4 linked regions of the Homo sapiens genome follow. The protein of the gene in region 4 interacts with the protein of the main gene of each other region in a biochemical or structural test. Each region holds a gene or a part of one and is shown on either strand. Other genes may lie near its edges.

Region 1 (7,000 bases), on a different chromosome or scaffold from region 4:
TTCCCCAGGGTGAGCCATGAGGCTCAACTGGGCCCGTAGCTGCTGATTCTGCTGGGTGGCAGCTTCCAGGCGCTCCTAAGGGGCCAGAAAAGAGAGTGAGAAGGCATGGAGGTTGCCAGGTTGTCCCCCTCGGGGCCCTGCCCTCACCAACTCCCTCACCTGGGTTTCCTGCAACTCTTGGCGGGCCATCTCGGCCACCGCTTTGCCCTGAGCTTCCTGCTGCTGCAGCTGGTCCACGAGCTGGGTCTGCAGCAGTAGCTGATTATGCAGCACCTCCTTCTCAGAGGTCAGCTGCTGATAGGCGGCCACATACTGCTGCAGGTGTCCCAGGTACTGGTCTCGCTGCTGCTGCAGACTTTGAGCCTCTTGGCTCTTCAGCTCCACCTGTAGGAAGACCCTGGGCGTGAGGGCAGGTGGTGGCCTGCTTCCAGATTCAGGGCCCATAAATAGGGTAGCGAGGGCTCTGTCACCTGCCCAGACCTCTGGCCCCTTGCTCCAGGCCTAAGTGACTGCCTCCCTTGTCTAGAGCCTCGTGCCTCCTTCCCCAGCCTCAAATTTCACATCCTTCTTCCCACCATTTAAACCGTAGGCCACAGACTGGTGGAAACGCAGAGGGAGCCAACCACCATCTGCTAAGTGTGCTACATGCCTAATGCTTTCCACGTATTATCTCATTGAATCCTCAGCACCTCTGCAAGGAAGATGCTAACTTCCTTTTTAAGTTAAAGAAACTGGGGCTTAGAGATGCAAAGTAGTTGAATGATGACCAGTGGAGCAAAGGCCAGAATCCAGTTTGAATCTAAGGAGCCTCTTATGCCGCTGTCTCTTCCCCTGTGATTGGGAGAAATCCATGCCTCTAGCTGGGACGATGATGTCCAGACCTGAGAGGAGCCCAAAGCTATCCACCTCTAAAAGTCAGAGGGCAGGGAGCAAGAAACAGTCACAGGACTGCCCTGGAGGGTGCTGGGGTCACCTGTGCCCCAGGCTGGAGCTGCCTCTGGCCTCACACCACCCCTCCCCAGAGGCTGGTGCCCGCCTCCCAGCCCTTCTTGGATGGGGCGGGGTTACCGTTTCCTTCAGCTCGCTCAGCTTCTCCTGCAGCTCGCCCAGCTTCTTTCCCAGCTCCCTCTTGACGTGCTGCTCCGACTGCAGTGCGCTGGTGATCTCCATGTTCTCATTAGTCTGGACAGAGAGAAGCAATCAGCGGCCACCCACTGCAGCTGGAGACCCCAGAACTTGCTGCCTTGGTGTCTGCCTCCCATGGCACCGGGAAGGGTGGAGGCAGGTTAGAAAAATCATCCCCTCTCCCCCACAGCCATCGGAGCAGGGCTCTGGCTCACAGATGCCTCCAGAAGTACCATTTCAAGTGAGGGCTACACTGCCCCACTTTACAGGTGGGAAAACAAAGGTCTGGAGGGCTAGGGAGGAGGGCGGGCTCTCCAGGTGGGGCAGCGCACCAGCTTTACAAATCCGCTCTGCAGCTCAGCCAGCTGCTCCTTGAGCTCCCGGTTCTGGGAGAGTGCGCGGCTGATGGTAGTGCGGTCGTTCTGCATGGTCTCCAGGATTTGCCTGCGCGCCTCCGCCTGCTCCCCCCAGAGCTCGGCCGCCCGCTCCAGCTCCAGCAGCCTCTCCTCCTGCTCCCGGTTCAGGCGACTCAAGCCCTCATTGTCTTGCACCTGGGCTTGAAGCTGTCCTGCCAGACCCTCCAGCTCCTTCCGCAGGTGCTCAGCCTCCGCTTGTAGCTGCTGCTCCACCTCGGAGGGCCCTGCTGGGGGCTCTGGGGGCGGGGGTTCAGCTGAGAAAGGACGCAGACAATAAAAGCCTCTGGATTCTCAAAAAAACCCTCCTCTTGGTCCATACCTCCTCTCAAGCTCCCCAAACTTGGCCTCCCTGCTGATGATTCCTCGCACCCGGATGTTAGCCAATCTTCCAAACCACTTTCCGATAGCGACAACTGTGGGTGGCTGACAACGGGCACTCCTTCGTCTTTGCTGATGGGGCACTGAGGCTCATGGAGATGACGAGACTTGCCATCTCCTGGCACAGACCTCTTTCCCTCTGCCTCAAAGCCATTCCATCCACCCAACTCCCTGGGGCATTCTAAACCACCCCCACAACCCTCTGACACCATTCCTGCTCCCAGGTCACCCCAGCCCCAGCTTACCCATCTGGTTCCTCAGTTCAGCCAAGCTCGTCTCCAGCTCCTGTACCCGACTCATGCTACATTCCTTCTCCTCTCTCAATGTGTGCACCTGCCCAAAGCACAGCAAGAAAGGGCCCTGGAGAGGGGCTGGTGGCTGGACAGGCTACCATCTCCCTCTGCCCCCACCGCCACAAAGCCCAGACCCATGACCACCTCTGGCTGTGCTCCTCCCATTTCGCAGATGCCCAGAAAGATCAAGTGACCTATCTAAGGTTGAGGGGGAGCTGAAGGGTCAGGTCTCACCTGCTCTGACATCTGCTGCATCCTCTGCCGCCACATGGCGCTCTCTCCTTTGAGATTCTCCGCATATTTATCTCTCTCCATTTGTAGTTGTCTAACCGACTCCATTACCTGCAAGAATGGCCACAGAAATGAGGAAGGACTGTCACTGGTTGTCACCTACTCCTGGCCACCTGGGGTCATCTTCCTTCTACATCCCTCCCCTGCAAAGCCTCACCTGCCCCAGGTGTGCTTCCAGCTGTGCCCGCTCCTCCATGGCCTGCTGTAACTGCTGGTTAGCATCAGGGGCTTCACACCGGCTTGAAAACTGGATGGTGAAGAGCGAGAAGTTTAGATCTGGGGAGCCCAGGCCGTTCCAAATAGTGCCCCTTAAAAGGGCTAGGGCTAGGCTCAATGTGCAACTCAGTCAATACAACTCTGCTGTCAAGTTTCTTTGCTTTAGAAATAAAAAATAATTTTAAAAAGATCTCAGGCCAGGCATGGTGGCTGATGCCTGTAATCTCAACACTTTGGGAGGCTGAGGTGGGTGGATTGCTTGAGCTCAGGAGTTCAAGACCAACCTCGGCAACATGGCAAAGCCCCGTATCTACAAATACAAAAATTAGCCAGGCATGGTAGTGTGCGCCTGTAGTCCCAACTACTTGAGAAGCTGAGGCAGGAGGATGGCTTGAGCCTGGGAAGTAGAGGTTGCAGTAAGTATCACTCCAGCCTGGGTGATAGAGCGAGACCCCGTCTAAAAAAAAAAAAAAAAAGATCTCTACTCTCTATTATTAGTGAAAGTGTTGGCTTGAACCTCAGAAGGAAATAAACAGACTCATGAGCTAGCCATATAAATGTAATCTCTAAAATAATGGTTTTCACCCATGATGCTTTAAAACAAAACAAAACAAAACAAAACAAAAATTGTCTTAAGCCCTAACCCTAAGATTCTGATTCCCCAGGTCCCCAATTTGTAGATTTTTAGCACTCTCTAGAGGATTTTATGCCAGGACCGGAACAAGGACCCAAATTTTCCAGCTCTTGGCTGGAGTCTCCCCATGCCCTGCATGATCCCTAGACCATGGCCCCAGCTGGATGGCGCTCCCACCACCCATGGGGCTGCAGCCTCTTGCCTGTTGAAGCAGGAGTTCCGTCATCTCTAACTTCTTTTGCAATTCTTCCAAGTTAAGCTGCATGCCAGCCTTCTCAGTCACTAGGACCCGAAGCTTCTCTTCCAATTCTGATTTCTCTTGCTTCAGGTCCTCATTGCTTTGGCTATGGCCAGAGGCAGTAGAGAAAGGAATGAACGAAGAACAGAAAGGACTGCTTTGGTGATCCACCCTCTACCCTTGCCCCACAACCACAGAACTGTGGCACTGGAAGGAACCCCAGGAATCAAAAGTCACATGTACAGGCCAGAGAAAAGATACGAGTTACCCAAGGCTACACCATGAGTCAGTGGCACAGCTGGCACTAGAGCTTTGCTGGGCACACATGCACACCTCTATGACTACCTCATCATGCTTACCTGTACCCCCCACCTCCCAGCACACCACCCATGCTGAGGGCCCCCAGACCTCCCATCCCACCATCCCCCATCCTACGTGTTCTTGTATAACTCCAGCCTGAGGGCGTCTCTCTCTTTGGTTAACTCCTTGTTGTACTGTAAATACAGAAAGGTTAAGTCAGGATATAGCAGGCAGAGGAGCAGCTGGCCAACCAGTAACAACAGCTACAGTAAGTACTCCACAGTAACACTTCCTCACTCTCAATCACACTTGACATGTTTTCAAGGCATTTCCAAGCCCATGGTCTCATTTTGTTGTTGCTGTTGTTGTTTTTGAGACAGAGTCTCCCTCTGTCACCCAGGCTGAAGTGCAGTGGTGAGATCTCAGCTCACAACCTCTGCCTCCCTGGTCCAAGTGACTCTCCTGCCTCAGCCTCCTGAGTAGCTGGGACTATAGGCGTGCACCACCATGTCCGGCTAATTTGTTTTGTTTTGTTTTTTCTGAGATGGAGTCTCTGTTGCCCAGGCTGGAGTGCAGTGGCGCAATTTCGGCTCACTGCAAGCTCCGCCTCCCGGGTTCATGCCATTCTCCTGCTTCAGCCTCCTAAGTAGCTGGGACTACAGGCCCCCGCCACCACACCCGGCTAATTTTTTTGTATTTTTAGTAGAGACGAGGTTTCACTGTGTTAGCAAGGATGGTCTCGATCTCCTGACCTTGTGATCCGCCCGTCTCAGCCTCCCAAAGTGCTGGGATTACAGGCGTGAGCCACCATGCCTGGCCTAATTTTTTTATTTTTAATAGAGAGGGGGTTTCAACATGTTGGCCAGGCTGGTCTTGACTCCTGACCTCAAGTGATCCGCCCGCCTCAACTTCCCAAAGTGTTGGGATTACGGCACCCGGCTGGTCTCATTTGTTTTTAAAAAAACTTGGTAAGGGTGGCCGGGTGCGGTGGCTCACGCCTGTAATCCTGGCACTTTGGGAGGCCGAGGGGGACGGATTACGAGATCAGGGGATCGAGACCATCCTGGCTAACACGGTGAAACCCCATCTCTACTAAAAAAAAAAAAAATACAAAAAATTAGCCAGGCGTGGTGGCAGGTGCCTGTAGTCCCAGCTACTCGGGAGGCTGAGGCAGGAGAATGGCATGAACCCGGGAGACAGAGCTTGCAGTGAGCCGAGATGGTGCCACTGCACTCCAGCCTGGGCAACAGAGTGAGACTCCGTCTCAAAAAAAAAGGACTTGGTAAGGGTGGAAGGAACAGGGAGAGAGAGCGAATTTATGTATGTACGTATGTATGTATATATGTATTTATTTGAGATGGAGTCTCCATCTGTCACCCAGGCTGGAGTGCAGTGGCGCCATCTTGGCTCACTGCAACCTCTGCCTCCCGGGTTCATGTGATTCTCCTGCCTCAGGCTCCTGAGTACCTAGGATTACAGGCATGCGCCATCATGCCTGGCTAATTTTTGTTATTATTTATTTATTTATTTATTTATTTATTTATTTTCAGACAGAGTCTCCCTCTGTCACCCAGGCTGGAGGGCAGTGGCACGATCTCAGCTCACCGCAACTTCCGCCCCCGGGTTCAAGCAATTCTCCTGCCTCAGCCTCCCAAGTAGCTGCAATTACAGGGGCACGCCACCACACCTGGCTAATTTTTTGCATTTTTAGTAGACACAGGGTTTTGCTATGTTGGTCAGGCTGGTCTCGAACTCCTGACCTCAGTTGACCCACCTGCCTCGGCCTCCCAAAGTGCTGGGATTACAGGCATGAGCCACCACACCTGGCCAAGATCGAATTTACAGCTGGCTAACAGAGGCCCAGAGAGATCAGATAATATTGCTATTGTTATTATCATTATTACTACCACTGTTTGAACCTTTATTGAATGCTTCACCAGGCACCATGCTAACAATCCCATTTAATCCTCATAACCACCACATGAGACAGTTACTATTATTACCTCTATTTTGTAGATGGACAACACGGAATATTAGAGGTTAAGTGCTTGCCTAAGATCACTTAGACAGAGCTCGGATTTGAACACCCAGGTATATCTGACTCTCTAAGCTCATTTGTTCCCCGAGGGTGGGGGCACAAATAGGAAGGGGGAAATTATCTTTTGTTCAGTTTTTGAAAGGATGATATATTCAGATAGTCCAAAACTCCGAAAGGGCAGAAGGGAAATATCTTCCAGCCGTGCTGTTCCTCTCTCCTGAGTTTGTTATGAATCCATGCAGACACGTTTTATGTATATTGTCATAGTACATAGGTACACATACACACACACGTTCCCTCTCTCTACACAAATGGTAACATACTAAAGATACTCTTCTGTACCTTCACAGTACAAGTACCATATTCCCCCACCTAGGACTTGACCAAGGCCACAGCCAGGTAACGGCACAGCGGGCACTTGGCCTCCGAGCTCTGCGTCCAGTGTTCACTCCCCACAGTGCCCCCAAACTCACCCACAGCAGCTGACTCAGCCCCAGGATGCCTCTAGCAACCACACACAAAAGCAGTGATAAATGGCCCATGCTGCCTTCTAGGCAGGACAGTCAACCCTGCAGAAGGGACCTTTAGGCTCACTCCTCCATCTGGGAAGCCAGTATGCCAGGGGACGGGGCAGGCAGTTGGACTCACCCTGTCTGCCTTCTTCTGCTGCGTGGAGACAGCAGAGAGAGCCCGCTCCAACTCTCCCACACGCCGCCGGGAATACTGCAGGCGGCTGGCCAGATCTTCAGACTCTCCTGGAATGAGAGAGGTTGAGATGGGGCCCAAAGGACTCCCCCTAAAGGCCTGTCAAAGTGCCAGGTTGAAGGATGATGGGGTGCCCAGATTCCCACCTTCTTTCTGCCTGGCAGCATGCTGAGTGTGAGCCAGGGCTGTCTGTAACTCAGCTTTCTCTGATACGAGGATCCCTATGGTCTGAATGTGAACCTTTGGGAGGAAACCCAAGCAAGTGCTGAAAAAGAAGGAAAGAAACATTCTCCAGAGGACAGGACGGAACTTCACACCCTCCACTCACCTGTAACTGCTCCCTTAGGGCTCCCTGCTTTTGGTGGC
Region 2 (7,049 bases), on a different chromosome or scaffold from region 4:
AGAGCAGCCTGCTGGGCTGTGAGCTCCTGTTCAGGTCCAACCTTGAGCAGTACTGCATGGTGGAAACAGCCTGGGCTTCACTGGAAGCCAGGAGACCTGGGTTTGCCTATTTAAAGCTGTGTGACCTAAACGTTGGTTTCCTCATTTATGAACCATGAGCCACAGTGCCTGACTCATAATTGATGCTTCAAAAAAAGTACATATGTTTAAGCTCCCAGACTGGTTAATCAATGTTTCAGCAGCCAATTAAGTGACACAGGGTATGTTTTGTTTCAGGGACAAGCATAATTTATTTCTGTGTTATATATCATGTCACAAGCTGAACCACAGAAGCTGCCTGTCTACCCTCGGCCCTTTCTCACTGACCAGACTGCTGAACCCATCTGGATCATGCTGGCTTAAACTCTTCGTTTGTATCCTATTGTGGGTCATGAACCCCTATGAGAATTTGATTAAAATTATGAACTCGCCCCAAGAAAAATGCATGTACACATAAGCACACAAAGTTGGCATACAATTGTGAGGGGTTCACAGAGTCCCTGAAGTATATCCTCAGACTCTGGCTGAAGGCCCTGTGTCTAAACCATGGCCTGCAGAGGGCAACAGGGCAGCTGGAGTCCACATTGAGAGCTGCATTCAGGAAAGCTGGGGACGCTGTAGAATTTGATGAGTTTTTTGAAGGCACTTTTCTTCAGCATCATCATGTCTTCTGGAAACCTGGAAAAGATTCTGACCCTGGAGGAGCCCCCATTCTTCACAGAGGCCTCTGTGGGCAGTGGCTTCTGAGCACTCACTGGCACACTGTTGCAACTGAGGGAGCGCACCGTCTTCTTCTTAGTCTGCACAGACAAGTAACTGAACAGGAAGGAGGACAGCTTGTGCTTGGTGGCATCTGGGGCCTCTTCTGAAAAGCAGTCATCAACTGGGTCCAGCAGGGTTTCAAGATGGAGGCCATTTTCCCTTTTCATGGGACCGGCTCCCACACGCTGAGGCTGCTTGATGATCTTCCTGGCCTGGACTGGATCATCTCCTGCCCCACTGACAGACTGAAGGGACGTTCCACAGGCCCAGGCTCTGGCACCCCTGATTTGGGAGATGAGGTTCCCAACCCGAGGGCTGGGTTGGGAAGTACAGTGCTGACTCAGGATGAGAGTGGCAGCATCTCGAATGAGATTCCAGTCTCTCAGGATGTCATCCCTAGTGGTAAACTGGGATGTCACAGTGAAACGGATGATTAACTTGTCCTGGATAGTGGCCGGGATGAGGAAGAGACGGCCAGCTTTAGCTATTTCCTTTAACACATTTTCTGTGAGACAATTAGGACCCTGTTTGAAAAATAAAGGAAGTGAAGTCTCCATCGCACCCCCTGTCAGCATCCCCAGAGCCCAGCATTTGTGTTTCCGAGAGGCTCTGGAGCACCACAAGACATCATTCACAGAGGGGCTTGGAAGATGGTATTACCTTTAGACGAAAAACCACCAGGCCAAGGTGCCTCTTGGCAGGAATTTCAAAGGAAGGGTCGTTTCTGACCAGAGATTCAAAATATTTAGCCATTTCAGTACCCTGGAATTGCAAGTATAAAGAGAACTGAGATTAATCATCAGACAAGAGACTATGCATAAACTTTCAGACTGCTAAATGGTTTTAAACCAGGGCCATCTTCCCGTCACAGCCGTTGTAAGCGGCTTCTGCCTCATTGTCATCTCCATTTGATTTTGCTCATATTCCAAGCTGGAAAATTTCCAATGGCGCCCTGTTTCCTGTCACATGGGATCCACCTCGAGAACTCATCTCAGGGCCCTCTTTCAACTCAGCCCCAGAACCCAGAAGGCATGTGCTTTGCAGTCCAGGCAACCCGGCCTCAACTCCTGATTTCACAGCTCCTTGACTGGCCAAGTGGGCAAGTGAGGGCCAAAACCCAGTCCATGCTCTGCGTTCCCAGCCAGGTGCCTCATGCGAGCTGCGTGTGCCTAAAGGAAGAGATGCCTGTTTGTAGTGCACATCAAGTTGCCATATGGGCTAGTGGCGGCCCTGCCCCATCCTAAGCCTACATGCTTCACTTGCCTCTCAAACCTCTTCTCACCCTGTACCCCAAATGCCCTTTTCATCCCCTGTTTCTGACATTCCATAGAGAACATATTTTCACATCTTGTCTCCACCCATCATGGAAAGGTTTTGGACCTGGTTAATGGATACAGAGTTTCTGCTCGGGATGATGAAAAAATTCTGGAAATAATGGTGATGGTCACACCACATTGTGAGTATTCTTAATGCCACTGAATTGTACACTTAAAAATGAGTAAAATGGTACATTCTATGGTATGAATATTTTGTTACAATTTTAAAATGTTAAAGGCTTTGTATTATATTAATCTTCCACTGAAGTTCATACCATCTTTTTAAATGTCCTGGGGTTTTTTGCTTTTTGTTTTTAACCCAGGATTACTAACTAAACAAGGACAGGACTTGCCTTCTCTTTTCTTTTTAAAAATTTCTCCAAGCATCCAGAAGATCTCAATAAAATATTTGCTAAGTAATTCTATCAGTTAGTTCTCATACTTACTGCTCTATTTCAAGAGAGGGCAAGGGAGTTAGCTGAACCTCTTTTTTTTTTTTTTTTTTTTTTTTTTGAGAGATAGGGTCTTGCTTTGTCACACAGGCTAGAGTACAGAGGCATGTTGCACAATCAAAGCTCACTGCAGCCTTGAACTCCTGAGCTCAAGTAATCCTCCCACCTTCACCTCCTGAGTAGCTAGGACTACAGACATGCACCACCATGCCCAGCTACATTTTTTAATTTTTTTGTAAAGACAGTGGTCTCACTAGGTTGTTCACCCTGGTATCAAACTCCTGGGCTTAAGCGATCCTCCTTCCTAGGCCTCCCAAAGTACTGGGATTACTGGCATGAGCCACCATGTCTGGCCCTGAGCCTGTCTTTTGACCATAATGAAATGAGTTTCTCCAAATCTTTCTCAGAGCCCCTTTCTCCCCTGCGTGGTCAGTTTCAAACAGCACAGGAGTTTTGACCTGCTCCATTTCTAACCTGGGCCCCTTCACCCCTCCTTAGGCAACCTGGTGATCCCTTGCTCCTGGGAGGTCACCATATTGATGCCGAACTTAGTGCGGACACTCAATTGGCATAGCACACCATAGCCCAGAACTCCCACCTGGGCTATGGTGGGAGCAATTGAGCTTCCCACCTCAGCCTCCCAAGTAGCTGGGACTACAGACACGTGCCCCTGTGCCCAGCTCAATCTTTCCATTTTTTAGAAGGAACCAAGGGAAAGTGACTTTCCCAAGGTACAAGTGACAGTAGGTAGATCTCCTCCCACTGTGCTTTTATCCCTCCTACAACACATGCTGTTTGCAATAACAGAAGCAGAGGTCAGGGGAGAGGAGAATACAGAGCACAGGCAGCACTGCCACCTCCAAAGCCCCACTTTACAGGTCATGAAAGCAGAGCTGCTGCCAGTGCCCTGCACCGCTCTAGGTCAAGGGCAGGCACAGTGCAGCCATGGCCAAATATAGCCCCCACCTGTGTTTGTAAAGTTTTTTGGAACACAGCATTCCCATTTGTTTACATATTGTCTACGGTAGCTCTTGTAGTACAGAGGTAATTACAATAGAGTATGGCCCACAAAGCCAAAAGTATTTAGTATCTGGCTTTTTACAGGAAATGTTTACCAATCCCTATTGTAGGTGATAGGAGATGAGGATGATGATGATGATGATGGTGATGATGATGACAATTTATTATAATTAGATGAAGAAGGAGATGATGAAGAAGGGGAAGAAGAGAAGAGGAAGAGGTACTCATTGAGTACTTAACTGAGTAGTAGGTAGACCCTGTGCTAAGGGCTGCATATATATTATCTCATTTAATTTGAGAGAGGTAGTATCCTTTTCTCATTTTTATAAATTAGGAAGGCATGGCCAGGGGTGGTGGCTCATGCCTGTAATCCTCGCACTTTGGGAGGCCAAGGTAGGCAGATTGCTTGAGCCCAGGAGCGTGAGAACAACCTGGGCAACATGACAAAACCCCATCTCTACAAAAAATACAAAAAGTAGCCAGGCATGATGGTATGCGCCTGTAGTCCCAGCTACTCAGGAGGCTGAGGTGGGAGGATCACCTGAGCCTGGGGAGGTCAAGGCTGCAGTGAGCTCTGATGGCACTACCGCACTTCAGCCTGAGCAACAGAGACCTCATCTCAAAAATAAATAACAATAAATAAATAAGGCAGACAAATATAGAAAGGTTAAGTAATTTGTCTAAGGTCATCAAACAGTAAAGGGTAGAACTAAAAATCCATTCTTTAAAGCACTTCTCTGTAACACAGAAATATGAAATTTAATTTTATATAACTTTCCAAGAGCTCAGTGTAGTAGAAAGCAGCCCAGAACTATGAAGAAAGGATTTGGAATTGGGAGGCTTCAGGGAAAGTCCCGGGCCTTCTTCCCTCAAGCAGGGCAATTACTCCCTCTGAGCCTTGCCAGGTTAGAGTGACCACCCCAGGCACTGTGCTAAGGATCTAATGAAGAACTAGAATTTATTTTTGTATTGAAGGCATTACGCAAGTGTCAATAATTATCATCACCGTCAAGTTGAAGAGATAAAATCAAATCATATCAAACAACTTTATTTTAATTCCATTTCTTCTATTGTGGGACATTGGAAGAACTTTGAGCACAGTTTTGTAAAGGTGTTTGAGTAGGTGATCACAGGAATGCTAATGAAGCAGAAACCAGAACAGATGGAATAGGCAGAAAAGCTTCTAGTGGAAGCAGAATTTAATCCATTCACAACATTTGGAGAGGAGAGGGTAGTTCAGGTGAAGGACACGGGTGAAGGTGCAGAGATGGACTGAGCATGAGGTCTGGATGGGTCGATGAAATGCCCAAGCTAAGGTAGGAGCTAATCGTCAAGTCCTTGAAAGCCAGGCCCAGGAGTGTGGGCCTCATATGGTAGGCAATGGGGTTGCTAATAGGAGGAATTCAGGGGTTTGATTTGCAAACAGAAGTGCTAAGGGAGGTTAGTCAGGATCTGCACATTGAATATCCAGTCCCAAACTGTAAGCAAAAAAATGTTCCTAATTACTTGTAACCTCCACCAACCATTCCCCGCCCACAACCCTCCAGTCTTGAGTCTGCATTTCTAGAAACAGCACAAAGTGCCTAAAGTTCCTCAATATTGTTGGTGGCAGCTGCTCATTGGTAAACAACCAGTGGTGATTACAAAGGTAAAATTACCAACATTAAAACCAGTCATAGGAAACTGGAGAACATTATGTTAAGCAAAATAAGCCAGGCACAGAAGGACAAATTTCACATGTTCTCACTCAAACGTGGGAGTTAAAAAGTAAGCAAACTGAGCTCGTGGAGACGCACAGTAGAATGATGGTTGGCAGAGGCTGGGAAGGGTAGCAGGGAATGGGGGATAAAGAGGTGATAGTTAACGGGCGCAAAAATACAATTAAATAGATCTAATGTTAGGCGGCACAATAAGGCAACTATAGTTAACTATAATTTGCTGTACATTTCAAACTAACTTAAAGAATGGAACTAGAATGTTTCTAACACAAAGAAATGATAAATGGTTGAGTGGTGGATACCCAGTTACCCTAATTTGATCATTGCACATTGTATGCCTGTATCAAAACCTCACACATACCCCATAAATATATACGTAATTATTATGTAAGCATAATAATTATTTTTTTTAAATGTTAAAAAAAATCATAGTTACCGCTTCCACCACTTCATTTTGGTTTGTGTTTGTTTAACCAAGAAGGAATTCCCTAGAGGAAAGGTGGAAGGACAAAGACACACATAGGCAGAAAGGACAGTGTCTTCAGCTTCCCCCACTACTTTTATCAATGGCTTTGTCTTGCATGTGGACTCTTGTAGAAGTGGGAGAACAATGCCAGTGGCCAGAGTTCTTAGTTAAGTCCCGCTTCTTCCATGAAGAACATGGGAGAGAGGCTGCACCTGTCTCATTTACCTCTGTGTCCCTTTCTTAGCACAATACCTTGTAATTGTTGAATTGAATAGAAATAAATTAAGCAAAATAGGCCTTCAATAAATGCCTGTTGATGCAGGGAGGTTTGTTCCAGACTTGGTAGGTCTACCTGTCCAAGCCAGGGGAGCTTTATTTCAGGCATAATCATAATAGTGCTAAAATATTCAGCCAGCTGTGACCATTGAGGTAATTCCAAAGCAGATAGGATCCTACCCTGGCCACACACACTTCCCCTTGATTTACTTTCTCTTTCTCTTTCCTGCAAACCAGACTCTGGGGCCAACCCTCCCCAGTGCTCAGTGACAGCAAGGGGAACGGTGAGACACTCAGCAGAGGACAGGCATCAGGCAGCCCTCAGGGCATGTTGTGCTCAGCGCTCCTCTGGTTAACAAAGAGAATCAAGTCCCAGGAGCTGAGGAACAGGCCCAGACACCTGAACCACACACCGCAAGTCTCCTAGGCAGATCTGCAAAGTAGAAACCAGCCTTCCTCGCCATGAGAAAACAGAGGAACACAGGCTCAGCCCCCACAGCAGCATGCTACATACATGTCTGACATGTGCTTGAAGATTCTTCACCCCGAAGGACCGAATCACGAACCAGAGTTTAACAGAGCGAAACCGTCGGCTCAGGGGGATCTGCCAGTGCTAGAAACAAAGGAACACAGTGCCCAAGGTTAGAGACAAGGGTGCCCCACTCCCTCGGGCATTTCTGGGCATTATCTGTTGCCTGCCCAGCCCTCCAGGGATGGACGATGTCACCATGACTCTGGGAGCTGTTGCTAAGGAGTAAGCCAAGCTCCCCAAGGGTTGCCCCATCGTGTGACCAAATCACTGATGAAGGTGGCCAATAGTCACTTGTCTGAGAGCCAGACAAGTGGAAGTCAAGTCCATTACCCTGAACCAATGAGAAGGGCACTTTGCTTTCAAGTGCTGCTTTAAACATTTCATCCCGGCCCAGAAACTCAACATAAGGGAAATACATTTTTACTCTAAATGAATCTTTATTCCTTGAATAGCAGAAAATAAAGTTCT
Region 3 (7,000 bases), on a different chromosome or scaffold from region 4:
GATTGTCCCCGAAGCTGCCACCCCCACTGCCCCCCACACTGCGGTAGCTGCGAGTGACCGTGACACTGGAGGCAGAAGAGCCAGAGGAGATGGGTCCGCCCACCTGGGCTCCTGAGCCGCTGGCAGATGCCTTGTCGGCAGGCTGCCCGCAGGTCCCGCACAGCACGGTGCGCGAGCGCAGGTTGTACTCAGCGGGGTCCCCCGAGCTGCTGCAGTGGGAGCCCTGGGAAGGGAGACAAGGCTCAGGCGGGACGGCGAGTCTGGGACTGACCACTCAGGCCCAACCAGGCTCCAGGCTCCTGCAGGCTCCCAGCCGCCAGGCAGGAAGGTGTGGTTCTGTGCCCAAGGAGCCAGCGGGCAATGGGGGTTTGGGAGGCTAGGGGCCCGGAGGAGGAGAGGGAAGACATAAAAGGGGAGAAGGCTCAGGAAGACTTGGGGACAGAGAACCAGAGCAGTGACTCTGACTCTGTTCTAGCTACTCTGAGCTTAAGAGGAAAAGAAGAGAGAACGGGAGCAAGCTTGTAGGGCAGCAGGCATGCACTATTAATTGGAGTGGAGGGGCGGTCAGGAATGAGAGAGAACATTCTTGCAGGAAAAATGAGGGAAATGAGAGGATATGCATGCAACAAGAATGGGGGAGAGAGGCAGGGCGGGCATGCCCCACGTCTGTCCTCCCCTCCCTTTCCCAGAAGACAAATCCAGACCCTTGTCCACTGCTCCCACAGGAATATTCCATGGCATCAGAAAGTTCCCACTCCCTTCCTTACCAGAGTAGGGCACCCAGACACCTGGGTTCCCTGTTCAAGGTATAGGGAGGAGAGAGAAGAAAGGCCAGGCCAGCGAGTAAAGTTCCAAAACATTCTTTAATGAAAAGATTTTTGGCACGGGGAGGCTGGGGAGAGGCTGCCCCCAGGCCTGGCTGGGTGGCCCCAGTGCAGGCTCGGCCTCAGCGGCGGCTACCACTCACGTGGTGGTGATGGAGCAGGTCATCTCCATCCTCATCCTCGTCGTCCTCAACCACAGTCACTGAGCGCACCAGCTTGCGCATGGCCACTTCCTGGTGGGGACATGGAACCAGGTCCAAGGGTCAGGGCCAGGGAAGGGTTGTACAGCATGTCTACCCCAGTGACCACCTGCAACTTTTCTTGTGGCCTGCCCTTTGTCCGGCCTGCTGCTTACTCTGTCCTCTGTGGTGATGGAGCTAAGGAACTCATTTCCACCCCAGAGGGACACTGTCAAGCTCTCCGGGTAGGAGTATGGCTCTGCCTTTAACAATCCTCACTGTCTAACTTCCACCCCTTGTGCTGTTGAGGAAGCATCTTTTGGTTTGCCTACTGGGTGGAGAAGTCTGGAGCCTGCAACAGAGAGCTCTAGAAAGGGGCCCTGAATTGGCAAACTTGGGTTGGGGGCAGCTGGCTCCGATGTTGGCCATCAGGGGGAGCCTCGTCCAGCAAGCAGCCAGGCCCAGGCCTACTTACTTCCCCAGTGGAGTTGATGAGAGCCGTACGCAGGCTGTTCCCGCAGCCCCAGGTGTTCTGTGCCTTCCACACCAGGTCGGTAGGGGGGCTGTGGGTGGCCCCAGCTCCTGCAGCCCAGATCTGGAGAGGAGAAAAGGACACTTACCCCAGCGCTCCCATCGCCACCCAAGGCCTCCCCAGAGTCCCAAGCGCCCTGCCACTCACCGTCACCACCTGCCCAGCCTTCAGGGTGAACTTTGGTGGGAACCGGTAAGTCAGCAAGGGATCATCTCCATTCTGGCGCTTGATCTGCCAATTGCCCATGGACTGGTCCTGCCGGGAAGATAGGGAAGAGGAAGGTCGGGGAGGCTCACCCAGGCTCTTGGGTGTATCTTGCTCAAAGGCCCAGCCCTCTGCCTGCCTGCAATTGAGGCCTCTCCTTCCATCTACACACACCCCTGTCACTGCCCTTCCCCCGGGGATAATAGCCATGATCTGTGGACACATACGCAGCACCAGGCACACGGATACCTTATCTTTCATCTTCCTGACAACTCAAAGACTTAGGGATCAGTATTCATCCCCATTTTACAGATGAGGAAACTGATGCTCTGAGAGGTTAAATAACCTGCTCAAGGTCTCACAGCCAAAGAGTCCAGGAGCCAGGCCTGGAACCAGAGTGTGGAGGAGATATACAGGCTCACCCTGGTCCACCCTCTGAGGGCAAGGATGTTCCTCTCTCCACATGCCATCCTTCTGTCTTGCCACTCTCTCCCTGATGCAGCTGTATCCCCTTAGACCCTGAGCAGGAGCCTACCTCATTGGACTTGTTGCGCAGCCGGACAAACTTGCCCTCCTCATCCACCTCCTCCACGGCCACGCGCCCGCTAGTGCGTGCGTGCTGTGAGAAGCTGCTGCGGCTCTCAGTGGACTCCAGTTTGCGCTTTTTGGTGACGCTGCCCCCACCCTGTGTCTGGGATGAGTGAGAGGAAGCACGGCCACGGCTGCGCTGCGAGGTAGGGCTGGGGGACAGGCGTAGCCTGGGGAGAGGGAGACCAAGTGGGGGTCTAGTCAAGGCCAGTTGCCGGCCAGAGGACACTGCCAGCACCTCCCCGACGTCTCCCCAGCCCACCTCTCCTCCTCGCCCTCCAAGAGCTTGCGGTAGGCGTGGATCTCCATGTCCAGGGCCAGCTTGATGTCCAGAAGCTCCTGGTACTCGTCCAGCTGCTGCTGCATCCTTGCCCGCATCTCGGCCATCTCCCGCTCCTTTTCCGCCAGCAGCCGCCGGCTGGTGTCCCGCTCACGGGCCAGTGAGTCCTCCAGGTCTCGAAGCTTCGCCTCCTTGGCTGCCAGCTGAAGGGGGGTGGGAGGGTTTGGTGAGCTCCCAAGGGCCCTAAGTATGGGGAAGGAGGGACGTGGGTCGGTGTAGGAGACACCTGGCTACTCTCTCCAGGATCTGCAATCAGAGCTTCCCCAGAGCCCTCATCAGAGCCAGCTCTGAACATCACAAGCTCTAAACATAGTCTTGGCTGGCAACTGGGAAGTCCTTCCCCTTGTCTAACTGAAACCTCTCGTTCTGAGGCTAGACTTTTTCTCCTGTCACAAATAGCACAGCCAACTAGAAAAATACTGATGCTTTTAACACCTCACATTGCAGAGTCCTGTGGCAACTCTGAGTTAGGGAGATTAAGAACAGCCTCCATTTTCGAATGGGAAAACCAAAGCCCTGAGAAGTGAAGGTGAGGTAAGAGTGTACAGAAACAGCACACAGGCCATCTGACTCCACATCCTGCGACCCTTCTCTGTGGTTGTGGGGACACTTTTCATCCCTCTCCTCCTCAGGAACCTCCCACCCCCACCCCCACCCCCAACCCTGGGCTTCCAGCCTGCATCCGGCCCAGACTCTAGGCCCCTGGAGAGAGGGGTGAGGTGGGGTATCACCTGCTTCTGGAGCTGGCTGAGCTGGGCAGAGAGGCTGTCGATGCGGATGCGCGACTGCTGCAGCTCCTCGTGGGCAGCCCCCACCAGGTTGCTGTTCCTCTCAGCAGACTGCCTGGCATTGTCCAGCTGGAGGGGAGGACAAAGGGTTAGGACTGTGGTGACTGGGAGGGGTGGAGGCACAGGCCTGAGTTGGGCATCACTGCTACAGCCCCAGGTCCTGGGCCACCCTGAGCTCCCTGCCACCATCTGCCTGATCCCCAGAAGGCATAGCCCAGCGTGGGTAAGGGTAGGGCTGCCAAGGGCAGAGGCAGTGAGGGAACCAATCGAGAGCAAGCACCTTGGCAGAATAAGTCTTCTCCAGCTCCTTCTTATACTGCTCCACCTGGTCCTCATGCTGGGCCCGCAGTTCCTGCAGCGCATCCGCCAGCCGGCTCTCAAACTCACGCTGCTTCCCATTGTCAATCTCCACCAGTCGGGTCTCATGACGGCGCTTGGTCTCACGCAGCTCCTGGAAGGGTTGGAGGAAGGACACAGAAACCAAAATCAGAATTAGTTCCTGGGAGGCCAAGACCCAGGGGCGGGGCTCCCTGCCCAGCCCTACTCCATGAGCCACTACCAGCCCCACTTTAACCTGGGAGCTGAGTGCTGGCCACCCCCAACTCCCTGTCCACTAGGGCAAGGGACTCAGGAAGGCGAGCTCTGCACACAGCTGGTCCCCCCTAGCCCAGCCCAAGTCTGTCATCACCCAGCCCCAGCCCTCTGGCTTGCAAAGCACAGTCCCCACCTCACTGTAGATGTTCTTCTGGAAGTCCAGTTCCTCCTTCATGGTCTGCAGCCTGTTCTCAGCATCCACCCGCCGCAGCATCTCATCCTGAAGTTGCTTCTTGGCCTCACCTAGGGCTGCCTCAAGCTGTGAGGAAGCAGGCAGAGATGAGGAAAAGGGGTCACAGAACACAAGAACTGGAAGGAAGCTGAGAGGTGGGCTGCTGCCTGTGCACCCCTTCACACATGTGGAAACAGGTCCAGGGAAGGAGGGCCTTGGATGCCTGCAGGGGTCAGGACATCTACTCACTCACTCTTGGTAGGTACTGTGCTAAGAGAGAAAATATATATCTAATACAAAAAAGTAGCCAGGCATGATGGTGGCACACGCCTGTAGTCCCAGCTACTCAGGAGGCTGAGGCACAAGAATCGCTTGAATCCAGGAGGTGGAGGTTGCAGTGAGCCGAGATCGCACTACTGCACTCCAGCCTGGGTGACACAGCTAGACTCTGTCTCAAAAAGAAAAGATATATGCCCCCCAGCCACAGGACTCCCTTCTCTGGCACAACATAGCAACTGCTATAAAGGAGGTATGTGCAAAGTACTGAGGGGACATGAGAGAAGGAACCAAAGTATGCCTGGGGTACTTTTGGGGGGCTCTGGGAAGGCCTCCAAGAGGCTAAGACCCAAGGGACAGGCTAGCGGGGCCTACAGAGAGCTACTGTCATGATTTCAAGGGCAGAAACAAGCATGTACAGGCACAGAGGTATGAAGGCATGTGTGTTCTGGGGTCTTTGGAAAGATCAGTACTGCTGAAGCCTGAAGTACGGGGTGGGAAGGGATGGGAGAGGTGGCTGGGTCAGTAGGCAGGGGCTGGCTCATGAAGAGATGCCCTTATCTGCCATGAAAAGAACCTGAGGATGTTTGAGCAGGGGAGCACCACGCTTAGATTTTCTTTTTTTTATTTTTATTTTTTTTTTGAGATGGAGTCTCGCTCTGTCACCTAGGCTGGAGAGCAGTGGCGCGATCTCAGCTCACTGCAAGCTCTGCCTCCCAGGTTCATGCCATTCTCCTGCCTCAGTCTCCCGAGTAGCTGGGACTACAGACATGGGCCACCACACCCAGCTAATTTTTGTATCTTTAGTAGAGACAGGGTTTCACCATGTTGGCCAGGATAGTCTCGATCTCCTGACCTCGTGATCTGCCCACCTTGGCCTCCCAAAATGCTGGGATTACAGGCGTGAGCCACCACACCCAGCCGTATGCTTAGATTTTCATTTAAGAAAGCACAGGCTGGGCTAAGTGTGGTGGCTCATGCCTATAATCCCAGCACATTGGGAGGCTGAGGCAGGAAGATCTCTTGCAGCCAGGAGTTCAAGACCAGCCTCAACAACATAGAGAGAACACGTCTTGCCAGGCGTGGTGGCTCACGCCTGTAATCCCAGCACTTTGGGAGGCTGAGGCGGGCAGAACACCTAAGGTCAGGAGTTCAAGACCAGCCTGACCAACATGGTGAAACCCTGTCTCTACTAAAAATCCAAAAAGTAGCTGGGCATGGTGGTGGGCACCTGTAATCCCAGCTACTCGGGAGGCTGAGGCAGGAGAATTGCTTGAACCTGGGAGACAGAGGTTGCAGTGAGCTGAGATCGTGCCATTGCACTCCAGCCTGGGTGACAGAGTAAGACTCCATCTCAAAAAAAAAAAAAAAAAAAAGAGAGAGAGAGAGAGGAGAACATGGCTCTATTTATAAAGAAAAACAGGGCAAGGAAGCACAGGCTGATCAGTGCATCCAGGAAGGGCTGGGGGAAGGGTACAACTGGGAGGCTGGAGACCAGACCCAGGAGGAAGGTGGCCCAGCCTTGGTTCGGTGGTCAACCTGCTGGCTTCTCCAGGTCTTTCCCTGGTATACTATGATGGTAGGGCCTGGGAAGGGAAAGAACCCAGGATGGAAGCTTGGCCACTGACTCTAATCCTGGCCCCACTATGAACAGATGAGACTGTGAAATTAGGAATAAACTGCTTCTTTGATTCTTAGCTTTTATTTATTATTTATTTTTATTTTTATTTATTTATGTTTTTTTGAGATGGAGTCTCGCTCTGTTGCCTAGGCTGGAGTGCTGTGACCCGATCTTGGCTCACTGCAACCTCCACCTCCCGGGTTCAAGCGATTCTCCTGCCTCAGCCTCCCAAGTAGCTGGGATTACAGGTGGCTGCCACCATGCCTAGCTAATTTTTGTATTTGTAGTAGAGATGGGGTTTCACCATGTTGGCCAGGCTAGTCTCGAACTCCTAACCTCAGGTGATCTGCCCACCTCTGCCTCCCAAAGTGCTAGGATTACAGGCATGAGCCACCGTGCCTGGCTATTTTTTATTTTTTTTGAGATAGAGTTTTGCTCTTGTTGCCCAGGCTGGAGTGCAATGGTGCAATCTCAGTTCACCACAACCTCTGATCCTGGGTTCAAATGATTTTCCTGCCTCAGCCTCACAAGTAGTTGTTGGGACTACAGGTGTGTGCCACCACGCCTGGCTAATTTTGTATTTTTAGTAGAGACGGAGTTTAACCATGTTGGTCAGACTGGTCTCAAACTCCTGACCTCAAATGATCCACCCGCCTTGGCCTCCCAAAGTGCTGGGATTATAGGCGTGAGCCACTGCACCCAGCCCAATTCCTAGCTTTTAACATGATAAATTGGAGAAGAGTGTTTTGAAAGTAAAGGCCACTCTATATACACAAAGCATTATTAACACATGTCCCATATGTAATTAGCCATCCGCTTCTGATGGCCTCAATAAATGATCAACTCCAGTCCTCCTTTTCCCCAGAGAAATCACAAGGGCCT
Region 4 (7,120 bases):
CCACTGCAAAACCATGCCAAATTGTAAAGACCATCAATGCTAGGAAGAAACTGCATCAACTAACGAGCAAAATAACCAGCTAGCATCATAATGACAGGACCAAATTCACACATAACAATATTAATCTTAAGTGTAAATGGGCTAAATGCCCCAATTAAAAGACACAGACTGGCAAATGGGATAAAGAGTCAAGACCAATCAGTGTGCTGTATTCAGGAGACCAATCTCCATGCAAAGACACACATAGGCTCAAAATAAAGGGATGGAGGAAGATCTACCAAGCAAATGGAAAGCAAAAAAAGCAAGGGTTGCAATCCTAGTCTCTGATAAAACAGACTTTAAACCAACAAAGACCAAAAAAGACAAGGCCATTACATAATGGTAAAGGGATCAATGCAACAAGGAGAGCTAACAATCCTAAATATATATGCACACAATTCAGGAGGACCCAGATTCATAAAGCAAGTCCTTGAAGACCTACAAAGAGATTTAGACTCCCACACAATAATAATGGAAGACTTTAACACCCCACTATCAATATTAGACAGATCAACGAGACAGAAGGTTAACAAGGATATCCAGGACTTGAACTCAGTTCTGCACCAAGCAGATCTAATAGACATCTACAAAACTCTCCATCACAAATCAATAGAATATACATTCTTCTCAGCAACACATCGCACTTAATCTAAAATTGACCACATAATTTGAAGTAAAGCACTCCTCAGCAAATATAAAAGAACAGAAATCACAACAAACTGTCTCTCAGACCACAGTGCAACCAAATTAGAACTCAGGATTAAGAAACTCACTGAAAACCACACAACTACATGGAAACTGAACAACCTGCTCCTGAATGACTACTGGGTAAATAACAAAATGAAGTCAGAAATAAAGATGTTCTCTGAAACCAATGAGAACAAAGACACAACATACCAGAATCTCTGGGACACATTTAAAGGAGTGTGTAGAGAGAAATGTATAGCACTAAATGCCCACAAGAGAAAGCAGAAAAGATCTAAAATCAACACCCTAACATCACAATGCTAAAAACTAGAGAAGCAAGAGCAAACAAATTCAAAAGCTAGCAGAAGGCAAGAAATAATTAAGATCAGAGCAGAACTGAAGGAGCTAGAGACACAAAAAACCCTTCAAAACATCAATGAATCCAGGAGGTGGTTTTTTGAAAAGATCAACAAAAATGACAGACTACTAGCAAGACTAATAAAGAAAAAAAGAGAAGAATCAAATAAATGCAATAAAAAATGAAAAAGGGGATATCACCACCGATCCCACAGAAATACAAACTACCATCAGAGAATACTATAAACACCTCTATGCAAATAAACTAGAAAATCTAGAAGAAATGGATAAACTCCTGGACACATCCACCCTCCCAAGACTAAACCAGGAAGAAGTTGAATCTCTGAATAGATCAATAACAGGTTCTGAAATTGAGGTAATAATTAATAGCCTACCGACCAAAAAAAGTCCAGAACCAGATGGATTCACAGCCAAATTCTACCATATGTATAAAGAGGAGCTGGTATCATTCCCTCTGAAACTATTCCAATCACTAGAAAAAGAGGGAATCCTCCCTAGCTCATTTTATGAGGCCAGCATCATCCTGATACCAAAGCCTGGCAGAGACACAACAAAAAAAGAGAATTTTAGACCAATATCCCTGATGAACATCGATGCGAAAATCCTCAATACAATACTGGCAAACCAAATCGAGCAGTACATCAAAAAGCTTATTCGCCATGATCAAGTTGGCTTCATCCCTGGGATGCAAGGCTGGTTCAACATATGCAAATCAATAAACATAATCCATCACATAAACAGAACCAACAACAAAAACCACATGATTATCTCAATACATGCAGAAAGGGCCTTCAACAAAATTCAACAACCTTCATGCCAAAAACTCTCAATAAACTAGGTATTGATGGGACGTATCTCAAAATAATAAGAGCTATTTATGACAAACCCACAGCCAATATCATACTGAATGGACAGAAACTGGAAGCATTCCCTTTGAAAACTGGCACAAGACAAGGATGCCCTCTTTCACCACTCTTATTCAACATAGTGTTGGAAGTTCTGGCTACAGCAATCAGGCAAGAAACAGAAATAAAGTGTATTCAACTAGGAAAACAGGGAGTCAAATTGTCTCTGTTTGCAGATGACATGATTGTATATCTAGAAAACCCCATCATCTCAGCCCAAAATCTCCTTAAGCTGATGAGCAACTTCAGCAAAGTCTCAGGATACAAAATCAATGTGCAAAAATCACAAGCATTCCTATACACCAATAACAGACAAACAGAGAGCCAAATCATGAGTGAACTCCCATTCACAATTGCTTCAAAGAGAATAAAATACCTAGGAATCCAACTTACAAGGGATGTGAAGGACCTCTTCAATGAGAGCTACAAACCACTGCTCAACGAAATAAAAGAAGACACAAACAAATGGAAAAACATTCCATGCTCATGGATAGGAAGAATCAATATCATGACAATGGCCATACTGCCCAAAGTTATTTATGGATTCAATGCCATCCCCATCAAGCTTCCAATGACTTTCTTCACAGAATTGGAAAAAACTACTTTAAAGTTCATATGGAACCAAACAAGAGCCCACATTGCCAAGACAATCCTAAGCCAAAAGAACAAAGCTGGAAGCATCATGCTACCTGACTTCAAACTATACTACAAGGCTACAGTAACCAAAACAGCATGGTACTGGTAATGGCTGCACAACTATGCAAATATACTAAAATCCATTGACTCATACACTCTAAATGGGTGACCTTTATGGTGTGTGAATTATGTCTCATAAAGTTGTTAGAAGTCAACATAAATGGAAGAGCAACCATTCACATAAAAATAAACAAAATTGTCAATGTTTTAAGAATTTTTCAGTAGGTGTAGTTAATTACAATTTGACTTTTTTAAGTCTGCACTAAAATTACTCACCAAAACCAATAGCAGGGTCCTCACTGCTGTTACTGAAAATGATTAACCTTTGATACACTTGTAATATCTGAGAAAAAGAAATGCAGGGGTCTCAGCAGGGCTCCCTTCTAAGGTCACTTGATTTCTAAAGAAGTAACCACTAGGTTTGAAGTCATCAGGATGTTAACTATGGGGATGGTTGGTTCAGTACCCAACATCCTGACAGCACATCTGACCATGTATATTGTATCGGAGACCACATCCTCAGCTCAGAAAAAGAGCTGAACTCATTTCAAATAGAAAGCACACTGCATACTGTTCCTCCAGGGACTGAGGTTGACTCTTCTTAGAGTGAGACATTCCCCAACATTGGAACAAAAATGACTCCCACTTCTTTTCTCACCTAAACCTGTTCAGAAGAAAGTAAGGAAGAAAGGCAGGAAGCAGGGGTCGGGGGGGGGCGGGGAGGGAGGGAAACTCGGAGATACTTTCAGTATCTAAAGTTGTGAAACTAGACAATCAGGAACGCACAATCAGAGGGCTGAAAAGGGCCAAGAGCCCCTACCCTCCTCCAGCCCATGTTCCCACACCTGCCACAGACCAGGCAGGAGCACAATAAACACTCACCACAAAGTGGGGAAGGAAAATCCAGGCAGGAGCCTCTATGTAAATAAATCTCCCTCCTGTCCTCAGCTTGCACTTGGCCTGCTAATTCTTATATAACCCAAGGAGACAGCTAGAAAGAATTTTGATTGGTGACCAATTTTGAGGACTTTTATTAAAATTCTAATTTAAGTCTTCGAGAGTTTCCAGTCATGGATACTACAGATAATATTGCAGATGATGAAAGCGTCTTCAAAATCATAGCTGAGACACTTTACAGTCTTCCCTGGTGTACTCTGATGGCAACAAGGTCCCTTGCCCCTCTCCTACCCTGTAGAATTCCAGCGCCCCCCTCAGCAGTCCTAGCAAAGGAAAGCCTGCCTGCTGGCAGTGAGCCATCATCCACCATTCTCACTTATTTGGATTTGGTTTCCTAATGCTAAACTTTGAAACTTGAAAAAAAAAATGAAAGGAAACCACATCCTTTTTACTCTCAGTATATAGATAGAGGCAGTTAAGAACTGAAAACAGATTTTCAGGTTGATTGATGTGGGACAGCAGCCACAATGAGGAACTCCTATAGATTTCTGGCATCCTCTCTCTCAGTTGTCGTTTCTCTCCTGCTAATTCCTGAAGGTAAGACTGATTCTTCTCATTTCCATTATGACCATGAAGCAAAATGGAGCAGACTTTCAATGAACTTTTGGCAATATTACCTTCCTATACTGAAAGAAGATGTTTTCCCCCAAGCCTTATAATGTTTAGCCAGGCACAATGGCACATGCCTGTAGTCCCAGCTACTAGGAACGCTGAGGTGGAAGGATCACTTGAGCGCAGGAGTTTGAGTCCAGGCTGGGCGACATAGTGAGACCCTGTCTCTATTTTTTTTTTTTAAATAGCATTCTTTCTTGGATTTTAAATATGTCTGTATTTTAGAAAAAAAAATCTTTTCTTCTCATAATTATTTTGCAAAAGATAGCAGAACCACCAATGCTTATTGCTGCCAATTTGTAACTTGAAAATTGCCAAAAAGGACAATGTAAAAATGAGTTAACAAAACTCTCTTGTTCGTAAAACAAATAGTACCTTCCAGGAAAGGAATAGTGGCAACTTAGTCAGCTCAGCCTTTCCTGCTGCAGAAAATGCATAGATAAAGACAATTAAGACAAATCTGACCTAGACACCAAAAGTGAATCAGGAATTATTAGAATTTTTATACTTATTTCTCTGGTCTAGAGACTCTTTGGCAATAAATTAAGGCGTGAGGCCAGTTCCCTCATTAACCCTTTGGGTGTGCTATAGTATTTTTTATTAAGCTAATTTTTTGTCTACCAAATGGTAACCAATATTTCTGCTTTTGTGTGAGTTGAGCATGCATGGGTTAAAATGCTGTATAATTCATGGTATTACCACTGAAAGGGTGACAGCTCTTGGGGAGCTCTAGATTTCCCTTGAAGAACCTGCTAGGAAGTGAGGACTACTCTCAAGCTGTGGCAATATGGAGCCAGCCACGGTTTTTCCCAGGATTCATCAGCTTTTGGAGGCAGGGACTTATGTAATAACCTGCCTTGCCAGGAATTCCCAAAGAACTCTGGTTTATCATATTTAGGTGCATATCTGGTTTATGCACCTAAATATGAGAAGACTTTGGGAGGCTGAGGTGGGTGTTTCACAAGGTCAAGAGATGGAGACCATCTTGGCCAACATGGTGAAACCTTGTCTCCACTAAAAAAACAAAAATTAGCTGGGTATGGTGGCACGTGCCTGTAATCCCAGCTACGCAGGAGGCTGAGGCAGGAGAATCGCTTGAACCAGAGAGTTGGAGGCTGCAGTGAGCTAAGATCGTGCCACTGCACTCCAGCCTGGTGACAGAGCGAGACTCTGTCTCAAAAAAAAAACAAAAAAGAGAGAGAGAGAGAAGAAATATAAAAATAACAAGGCTGCAGGACATTTGGGACAAAGGTTGGCTATGTTATAAGCAGGGCATAGTATGACTATATTCAGGCATGTTAAATCCTCCATAACAGAAAAACACAGGGCAGATAAATCCAGCCATATCTTTTCTTCAAAGGAAAACAACAAAAGCAACCTGCTGTGCTCCTCTTTGTTTCCTGTGTTCAGAGAGGGCAGTGTGGGCCCATATAAGGAACAGACAGCAAAGCAAGGCACAGTTGAAATCTATCTGTACATGAATCACCCTAGGAAAATTGGGATTGGGTGAAGGTCTTTTGTTTCTATAAGCTCTTTACCCTTTTGTTTCTAGAGCCTAGAATTTCTTCCTCCCAGTTTCCTTTTTAAAAGCAGAGACCTCTGCTTTTTCAAATCACACTAGCCACATTTCATGTGGTCACTCTCCTCCTTGCTCTTACCCTCATCAAATCTTACGAAAGGCTTCTATAGCTGTCATTAATACTTGCCTGTGAATTTGGCAATGACTTAGTCCTAATTATGGAACAAGAGGCACTGTGCCCTATTCAAGAAACCATGAGTCTCAGCAAAACTATTTTGGGAGAATCCAAGAACATCTGGTGCAGGAGGTGGAGCACTCGGAGTGTATCACTAAGACATAAGGTTCTCTCTATCTGCATGTATGGTTTGCCTTGTGTTTAGTTCTCACTGTTCCTTAACAATGGGTCTCTACTTCAAGACTATCATCAAGGAAATGTCACTTAGGCAGAATTCTTGGCATATGGTATCTTCTCTCTTCTCTTCCCTATCTCATTGGAAAAGACCTTAGATTAAACCCCATGGTTTGGTCTAGAGATTGAAGGGGAGGTGCAATCGATGTTATTTTCTTAACTTATGAGTGAGAACAGTGCAGTTTAATAACCAAAAGTCTCATAATGACCAAAGGACTGAGGGGTAGGGTCACAGCTAAACGATGCTAATATCGGTTCATAAGCTATATTTTTGCAATGGCTTGGGGTTAAAAGGGAAGTTATGAGGCTTCTAAAAGTCTTATCTATTTCCCCCAAATTAATAGTTAGCCAAAAAGGGTGGGAGCACTTGAGGTTGTCACTACCACTGGCATTTCCTGCAGCAACTGTTGATGGTAAAGACCAAGGCAGAGCTTTCTGCCCTGGGGCCTGAGGTTGCTGGTTTGTGACATCCAGCCTAATGATCCTGGAACAGTCAATGGCCTCGCTTCTGTGGGTGGAAAAACAGGACCCTAGAGTCCAACAGGAATAGGATTTGCATCAGATGTCTGCGGGTCTACATAGAGTAAAAGCAGGGGAAATGCTCTCATCCAGACTTCCTCTCTGAGTGCAAAAAGCATGGCTGGTCTTAGAAACATGACTTTGTGTAGAGCTCTTTGGGGGTGAGCACCAATCTGATTTGTCTTTTTCCATTGAACAGATGTCTGTGAAAAAATTATTGGAGGAAATGAAGTAACTCCTCATTCAAGACCCTACATGGTCCTACTTAGTCTTGACAGAAAAACCATCTGTGCTGGGGCTTTGATTGCAAAAGACTGGGTGTTGACTGCAGCTCACTGTAACTTGTAAGTGCCTGGGTTTTTAAAAAAAAGTTTGTAAAGATACTCTAATTTGGGGAAA

What was found.
Region 1: of the proteins of GZMA (region 4) and GOLGA2, one has a biochemical effect on the other in vitro, tested with the Homo sapiens proteins (one study listed by BioGRID).
Region 2: of the proteins of GZMA (region 4) and HDC, one has a biochemical effect on the other in vitro, tested with the Homo sapiens proteins (one study listed by BioGRID).
Region 3: of the proteins of GZMA (region 4) and LMNA, one has a biochemical effect on the other in vitro, tested with the Homo sapiens proteins (one study listed by BioGRID).

The regions. Positions count from the first base shown.
Region 1 is NC_000009.12:128,259,008-128,266,007, forward strand, and holds part of GOLGA2 (golgin subfamily A member 2), read right to left. Parts: coding exon 6,963-7,000; intron 6,875-6,962; coding exon 6,781-6,874; intron 6,685-6,780; coding exon 6,578-6,684; intron 4,086-6,577; coding exon 4,027-4,085; intron 3,698-4,026; coding exon 3,556-3,697; intron 2,751-3,555; coding exon 2,661-2,750; intron 2,555-2,660; coding exon 2,447-2,554; intron 2,253-2,446; coding exon 2,165-2,252; intron 1,796-2,164; coding exon 1,458-1,795; intron 1,183-1,457; coding exon 1,069-1,182; intron 385-1,068; coding exon 160-384; intron 76-159; coding exon 1-75. UniProt on the Homo sapiens protein: Peripheral membrane component of the cis-Golgi stack that acts as a membrane skeleton that maintains the structure of the Golgi apparatus, and as a vesicle thether that facilitates vesicle fusion to the Golgi membrane.
Region 2 is NC_000015.10:50,241,682-50,248,730, forward strand, and holds the end of HDC (histidine decarboxylase), read right to left. Parts: intron 6,663-7,049; coding exon 6,564-6,662; intron 1,564-6,563; coding exon 1,462-1,563; intron 1,326-1,461; coding exon 579-1,325; 3' UTR 266-578; downstream 1-265. UniProt on the Homo sapiens protein: Catalyzes the biosynthesis of histamine from histidine.
Region 3 is NC_000001.11:156,131,711-156,138,710, reverse strand, and holds part of LMNA (lamin), read right to left. Parts: intron 4,309-7,000; coding exon 4,183-4,308; intron 3,907-4,182; coding exon 3,736-3,906; intron 3,525-3,735; coding exon 3,399-3,524; intron 2,851-3,398; coding exon of another isoform or gene 2,811-2,850; coding exon 2,590-2,810; intron 2,498-2,589; coding exon 2,275-2,497; intron 1,791-2,274; coding exon 1,683-1,790; intron 1,599-1,682; coding exon 1,479-1,598; intron 1,058-1,478; coding exon 968-1,057; coding exon of another isoform or gene 947-967; exon of another isoform or gene 845-946; intron 224-844; coding exon 1-223.
Region 4 is NC_000005.10:55,098,554-55,105,673, forward strand, and holds the start of GZMA (granzyme A precursor), read left to right. Parts: upstream 1-4,092; 5' UTR 4,093-4,129; coding exon 4,130-4,199; intron 4,200-6,920; coding exon 6,921-7,065; intron 7,066-7,120. UniProt on the Homo sapiens protein: Abundant protease in the cytosolic granules of cytotoxic T-cells and NK-cells which activates caspase-independent pyroptosis when delivered into the target cell through the immunological synapse. It cleaves after Lys or Arg.